Linked DNA regions of Homo sapiens. The protein of the gene in region 2 purifies or fractionates together with the protein of the main gene of each other region. This does not show direct contact. Each region holds a gene or a part of one and is shown on either strand. Other genes may lie near its edges.

Region 1 (3,645 bases), on a different chromosome or scaffold from region 2:
CTTGCAGTCTTGTCACCATCCAGCACGGCCTGGTATTCAGTCATATACATGGAAGGGGTCTCTCTTCCCAGAGGACTGTGAACCCCAGAGGGTGGGGCCTGGTGGTCTGGATGCTCTGTCCCCAGAGCTGAGAACAGTGCCTAAAGCACAACAGACACTGGTATGCACCAGCTGCCTGAATGAATGAAGGAAGGAGGGAATGAATGAATGAAAGAGGGAGTAAATGATAAATGGAGGGAAAGAATAAAGGAGGGAATGAATGATGGAGGGAATAAATGCATGAAAGAGGTAATAAATGAACAAAGGAGGGAATGAAAGAGTGAAGGAGATAATAAATAAGGATGGAATGAGACCAGATGCGGTGGCCCACGCCTGTAATCCCAGCACATTGGGAGGCCAAGGGAGGACCACCTGAGTCCAGTAGTTCGAGACCAGCCTGGCCAACATGGTGAAACCCTGTCTCTACAAAAAATACAAAAATTTTGCTGGCCCTGGTGACGTGCACCTGTAGTCTCAGCTACTAGGGAGGCTGAGGTGGGAGGATTGCTTGAGCCTGGGAGGTCTGCAGTAAGCCATGATCATGGACTCTAGTCTGGGCGACAGAGTGAGACCCTGTCTCAAAAAAAAAGTACTGAATGAGTGAAGGGGGGAAAGAATGAATGACGGAGGGAGGGAAAGAGTGAGTGAAGTAGGGAATGAGTGAATGAAGATGGAATGAATGATGGAATGAATGAAGGAGAGAATGAGGGAGGGAATGAAAGAGGGAAAGAACGAAGAAGAGCATGAATGAATGACCGAGAGGATGAATGAATATAGGTGCTGAAGTCCACTGTGAACATTTTGGGGGGTGTGAGCAGCCATTGCAGGGATCTGGGGAGGCCTGGGAAAGGCAGGGGAGATCCAAAGGATGGATTTGGTGATTTTGATGCAGAAGCTGGAGGGAGGCAGTGGCCGGGCCAGGCTGAAACAGGGGCAGGTGGGTGGAGCCCCTGCCCTGTGTTGGTCAGGGCTGGGCAGGGCCAGGTACTACAACAAACACACCCCACATTCCAGTGGCTTACCCCAGTACAAGGTTATTGGTTCCCAGAGCCAGGGGCGCAGGGTGGTGGGGCAGGGAGCCAGGAAGGGGTGGGGACCACTCATTTCTCCAGCTTCTCAACCAAGAAAATCTGAATTTCCAGCTTCTGTGATCTAAACTTTTCCTTTCCTTTCCATTTCCTTTTTGTTTCCTTTTTTTTTTTTTTTTTTGATGGAGTCTTGCTCTTTGGCCCAGGCTGGAGTGAATTTGCGTGATCTCGGCTCACTGCAACCTCTGCCTGCTGTGTTTAAGCAATTCTCCTGCCTCAGCCTCCGGAGTAGCTGGGATTACAGGCGCCCACCATCACGCCTGGCTAATTTTTGTATTTTTAGTAGAGACGGGGTTTCACCGTGTTAGCCAGGATGGTCTCAATCTGCTGACCTCATGATCCACCCGCCTCGGCCTCCCAAAGTGCTAGGATTACAGGTGTGAGCCACCACGCCTGGCCTAAAGCATTTCTTGTTTGTTTGTTTGTTTGTTTGTTTGTTTGTTTTTAAAGTTCATTCTTGGCTGGGCATGGTGGCTCACACCTGTAATTCCAATACTTTGGGAGGCCAGGGCTGGTGGATTACCTGAGGTCAGGAGTTTGAGACCAGCCTGACCAATATGATGAAACCCCGTCTCTACTAAAAATACAAAAATTAGTCGGGTGTGGTGGTGGGCACCTGTAATCCCAGCTACTGTGGAGGCTGAGGCAGGAGAATTGCTTAAACCCAGGAGGCGGAGGGTGAGCCGAGATTGCACCACTGTACTCTGGCCTGGGCGACAGAGTGAGACTCCGTCTCAAAAAAAAAACAAAAAAACAGTTCATTCTCATTCATCTAACAGCAAGTGGTGGCCCGCCTGCCTCCACACAATCATTCAGGAACCCGGCTCCTTTCACTGGGGGCTCTGCAGTTCCCTGGGGCCTCTGCCCGTTATATCTACTAGCGAGTGGGGAAGGGGAACTTGGAACCCTCCATCTGGGCTTGGCATTGGTCCTTACACCCCCCATCCACTGGCACATCTCCTGGCCCTACCTGGGGCAGGGGCAATCCCTCCCCAGTTGGGGGCACACGTGCTAGATGCTTCAGCCATCTGTCCCTGGTGCCACCCAGTGACCTGGGGGCAGAACAGCTGCCCAGCTCGGGGCTGGACCCTGGGGGTCCTGGTTAGGGTGGTCTGAGCATGAAGAGTCCAGGCTGGAGGTGCTGGGGGATGGTGTCAGGTGCTCCAGACGTCGCAGGGGACAGAAAGGAGGATGGGTTCAGGCCCCAGCTCCCCCAGGGCCACCAAGCCAGCTGGGGTATGGGGGAGGACAGGGTGACTGGTTTATTACGCTTTGAGAATCTACCTTCTTCCTGGCTGGTTGGTAAATGGCCCTTGCCCTTGGTCCACTGAGAGATCCAGCCACCAAAAGTTTCACCATAGACCTCATCAAAGCCCCTGGCTGCCCTGGGGTCCTCCAGCGGGGAGGCTGAGGCTCCCAGAGGCCAGGCGGGGCAGGGCACCAGTGACGCTGTCCCCTCCGTCCTCCCTCCCAGCGGTCTCTCTGTGCTGATCCGCGTGCGCCTGGAGCTGCGGCGGCACCAGCGTGCCGGCCACACCATCCCGCGCATCTTTCAGGCGGTAGTGCAGCGACAGCCCGAGCGCCTGGCGCTGGTGGATGCCGGGACCGGCGAGTGCTGGACCTTTGCGCAGCTGGACGCCTACTCCAATGCGGTAGCCAACCTCTTCCGCCAGCTGGGCTTCGCGCCGGGCGACGTGGTGGCCATCTTCCTGGAGGGCCGGCCGGAGTTCGTGGGGCTGTGGCTGGGCCTGGCCAAGGCGGGCATGGAGGCCGCGCTGCTCAACGTGAACCTGCGGCGCGAGCCCCTGGCCTTCTGCCTGGGCACCTCGGGCGCTAAGGCCCTGATCTTTGGAGGAGAAATGGTGGCGGGTGAGGCCAGGCGTGGGCATCAGGTGGGCGGGGACCCAGGACTGGCCCCTGGGCGGGCGGGGAGATGCTGCGCCCCAGGCCTCGGAAGGCGGCCGCCCTGGACGTGGGCATGAGGTGCACGGTCTGGGTATGCCCCGGGCAGGGAGTTGGTGCATCCCAGGCCTCGGGAGGGGGCCTGTCCGGCGGTGACCATGACCCATGTGTTGGGGACCACAGCGGTGGCCGAAGTGAGCGGGCATCTGGGGAAAAGTTTGATCAAGTTCTGCTCTGGAGACTTGGGGCCCGAGGGCATCTTGCCGGACACCCACCTCCTGGACCCGCTGCTGAAGGAGGCCTCTACTGCCCCCTTGGCACAGATCCCCAGCAAGGGCATGGACGGTGAGTCAAGGGTGGGACCCCTGCTCTATCAACTGGTTTCCTACCCGCCCAGGCCCCGCCCCCAACTTCCAGGCCCCACCCCCCAATGCTCAGGCCCCACCCCTAACACCTGTATCTCCTGCAGATCGTCTTTTCTACATCTACACGTCGGGGACCACCGGGCTGCCCAAGGCTGCCATTGTCGTGCACAGCAGGTGAGGGGCCCACAGGCATAATGCCCTCAGCCGCTGAGAGTGACCCAGGCTATCTTGCCAGCCTGACCTGCCCCTCA
Region 2 (3,745 bases):
AGGATCTAGAAGGCAGGTCTAATGGAGATGCCCAGATAACAAAATGTGCTTCAGTGCCCTCCCCTACTCCACCCAATCTTTCACCAAAGTAGATCCCAGAAAGCTGAACTGACTGGTTTGCATTTCATACCAGCCCTTCCTACATTCCATGATGTAAATCCTTGCACCCAGTTTAAAAAAAAAAAAGTTTTCAAGATCTGATAACAACATGGGGAAATGTTCCTGACATGATATTAAGTGGCTTGGTTAAAACCATTCGCTAGAGTACAAGTTCTCCTAAGGAACAAACTCTAAGTCAAAAACATGACAGCCAGGGTCACTGCCTCCTGGAAGACACAGCTCCCAGCCTGTGGATGGCAGAGCCGACGGAATGGGGTCTCCAGGAAGCACTACCACAGAGAACATCCCTATCCCACTGCCCAGTGCAAAAACATTTTTAACAGCATGAACAAGGGCAAGTCCATTCATCCATTGATGTCCCTAAGGACATCAAAGGACACAGGGAACAGAAAAGGACTCAAGTGAGAGAAGGGGCTGTCAGAGGCTACTGGCTGGATACATGGGGCAGCTCAAGCTGCTCGCCCCCGAGACAGGGCAGCAGCTGGGTTCCTCTTCAAGGGCTACGAGCAGCACCCACACCAAGAGGGGCAGATAACCACAGCGATAATCACACAAGAAGCAATGCCAATGCCTAGGTCACAGTTAAAGTGTGGTACAGCTGCAGGGTGGGTTATTGCAACCACTAGGACATTGTAAGTGATTCTGATTAACAGAAGGGAAACCTCGATGTTACATTAAGGGGGAGAAAACAAGATTCATAACTATATCTACAGCATGTCCTCAATTGTATCTATGCAATGTGTATAAAGAAAATGATCAAGAGATATACTAAAATGCTAATAGGAAGGTATCTTTGGATAGTCGATTTACCAGAAATTTTTTTCATTTGTCTATATTTTCAAAAATTCCATAATTAGCAAGCTTTATTTTTGTAACAAAGGTGGGCGGTGTAGGCGACCGTTAGTTACTAAAGAAAAATCCATGTCAGAGAGGCTCAGCAAACAGAATACAGACTTAGAAAGAGGGAGAGGGGCTTCATGCAAGACACACACGCAGACCAGGACAGCTGTGATGACTTCCCAGGGTCTACCGGATTTGTACTTGAATCCAGGGGTCAAGGCATCAGCTAAGGAAAACTTAGGCATGCTTCCTCCCACTTCAGTTTCTCCAGCTCTAGGTAAGGGAGGTGGGGGTTGGAAGAGTTGCTATTCCTCGCTTGGGAAAAGCTGCGGGGGGTGCGGGGCGGGGGTTGATTTCAACTCTGCGCGATTCACTGAGGACCTCAGTTCTACCTTGGAGGACATGCAGGGTCCTCTCCGCTGCCTTCTAAGCATGCCAGGCTCAAGAGTTGCTGCTATGTGGGCTCCAGAGCCTGGGCGAGAGGATGGATGTGGGACAGAGGACAGGGCAGACACACCTGTTCCAGTCGGGCATGTTCCCCGTCTGGTGGCTGTCTCAGGAGACGGCAAAACCCATACCATCCTGCCCATCCAGTCTATCACTGCCAAAGCTCGCTCTACCTGGTGAAGGGAGAGGGGAGGGAAGTGCCAGGGGTCACCAGCCGCAGTGGGGGCTGGGGAGGAGTTCTCGAATATCCCTAATAACTAAGAATGGTGGGTGGTACCGCTCCCACCTCACGGATGAGGGAAACAAGCTGGGGGGCGGGTGGAAAGCGATGTAACAGAGGTCGTAAAAATTGATGAGTGCCACAGTGGAGAATGAACGTGGACTCATCAGTACCCACCAGCCTGCCACAGGGCCCTTTCCAGAAAATCTTCTCGCAGGTCCATAACCCCTGCGCCGTGGCACTCACCCCATCTCCCAGACCCCTCGCGCGACAGCGCAGGTCCTCCGTGAGAGCGCTGGCTCCGGTCAGCCTCGGCCTGACGCTCGCCGCGCAGGACCCCGGAGTAGGCGGCTATGAGGGTCTTCATGGCTGAAGCCCGCCCAGTCACGGCCCCGCGGGAAGCCGCTTCACCCCGCGCCCCTGGCCCATGCCCCGGCCCCCGGGGCCAGGGCTTCGCGCAGAGCACAGGGGTCCCGGGACGGCGTCGAGGCTGGGCGGCTAGGACACCTGGAGCTGCGGCCGGCGGCCAGTGGTGGCGCGAGAGAAACAGCCTAGACCCCAGCAGAGGCGGCAGCCGCGGCGCTGGCGTCCCGGAGCGCAACACTTTATCACCTCACAACGGGGCAGGCGCCGACGCGGCGGGCGGGGCGGGCCGTTCTAAGCCGCCGCCCGCGCCACTTGCTTGTGGGGGAACCGCACCTGAGGCTCTGCTTGGCGCGGGCCCGGGGCTGGCCAGCAGCCTGCTCCGCGCGGATCCGGGGAATGCGTGAGAGGAGAGCAGCTCTGAGCCCTGCTTCCAAGGGGCGCGCCCGGTTATTCCCCTCGCTCCCTCAGTCCGACCCCGGGCGCTCCCCCGCGGAGATTGGTACGGCCCGGCGGCCAGTACCCGGGCGGGGAAAACCAAGCACGTGCGGTGCAGGCAGAGGGCGTGCAGGGGGTCGGGCCTTTACTCTTTAGGAGGGGCTGTCTTTTGGCAGCAAAGATGCGAAGGTCCCGCTTTTGGTCACTGGTATCAGGATTAGTTAGGTTAGGGCTGGGTATCTCAACCACCCAAACTGCTTCTGGCTTTCCATCTCTTTATTAAGAAACCTCACAGAGCACCTATACCCTGCTGGGTGCTGGGGACCCAGCCAGATCAGCCCAGGTTCTGCCCTTGGGATGCTCACGCTGGGGGGCAGCAGAGACAGCCGCACACAGTCACTGGTGACAACGGCCGGGACAAGCGAGAAACCAGGGGGCTATGGAACCACAGAGTAGAGAAGACTCTGCCCTGGGCTGGGGGAGTGGGGGCGCTGGTGCACTTCCCAGAGAGGTTGGTGCACAGCAGGTTTGGAATCAGATAGACTAGGAGTCCAGTTCTTGCCCTGCCTCTCTTGAGCCTCAGTTTCCATATCTGTAAAATGGGAATAATAATTATTATTTTTGTGAGGTACTTTGAGAAGTAAATGAGATAAGGTATAAAAAGAGCCTAGGTAGTGTCTGGCACATAGAAAGCATTCCAGAATGGTTTGCCCATTAATGAATAGGAATTTTGCAGATGGAAGGTGTGAGGGCAAAGCAGAAAGATAGGCATAAAGTGTTAGAAAAGCCAGCATGTTTGGGGCAGGGCTGGGGGCCCTGGAGTGGCTGGAGCCCAGGCAACTGTGGAAAATGAGGCTGAAGTGAGAGGCGCGGGTGCTTGAACTGAGAGAGGTTTGGGAGTGCCACTCTTGAGATATTGGGGGGGAGCCGGGTCTTGGGAGAGCTTTAGTAGGGAAATGGCTGGTCAGGTGGGTTTTAAGTGTCCTTAGCCATGGTATGGGAAATGGACAGGAGAGGCTGTAGGTCAGGAGGGCAGTGGGGAGGCTGTAGGGGCGGGGGATCCATGTGAGAGAGGATGAGCCTCAAGGCACGGCAGTGGTAGAGGGAATGGAGGGAAGGCCTGATCTAGGGAAGAGCATAGGAAGCGAGATCCACCAGCATGTGGTGGAGCGACTTGTTGGATGGAGGCTCAGGGAACGAGTGGGGACAACAAGCATGTCAGTGATAAGACAGATTTCTTAGGCATAGCTGGAGCGAGATAGCTGTGGGGTCACAGCATAAGAGGAGAGGAATTCCCTGCCTTTGTGGTCTTTATCA

The links.
Region 1: the proteins of DGAT2 (region 2) and SLC27A1 purify together in Homo sapiens (affinity purification with western blotting, with the first as the bait; one study listed by BioGRID). This does not show direct contact.

The regions. Positions count from the first base shown.
Region 1 is NC_000019.10:17,483,962-17,487,606, forward strand, and holds part of SLC27A1 (long-chain fatty acid transport protein 1), read left to right. Parts: intron 1-2,601; coding exon 2,602-2,996; intron 2,997-3,212; coding exon 3,213-3,374; intron 3,375-3,498; coding exon 3,499-3,568; intron 3,569-3,645. UniProt on the Homo sapiens protein: Mediates the import of long-chain fatty acids (LCFA) into the cell by facilitating their transport at the plasma membrane.
Region 2 is NC_000011.10:75,767,241-75,770,985, reverse strand, and holds the start of DGAT2 (diacylglycerol O-acyltransferase 2), read right to left. Parts: upstream 2,209-3,745; 5' UTR 1,995-2,208; coding exon 1,874-1,994; intron 1-1,873. UniProt on the Homo sapiens protein: Essential acyltransferase that catalyzes the terminal and only committed step in triacylglycerol synthesis by using diacylglycerol and fatty acyl CoA as substrates. Required for synthesis and storage of intracellular triglycerides.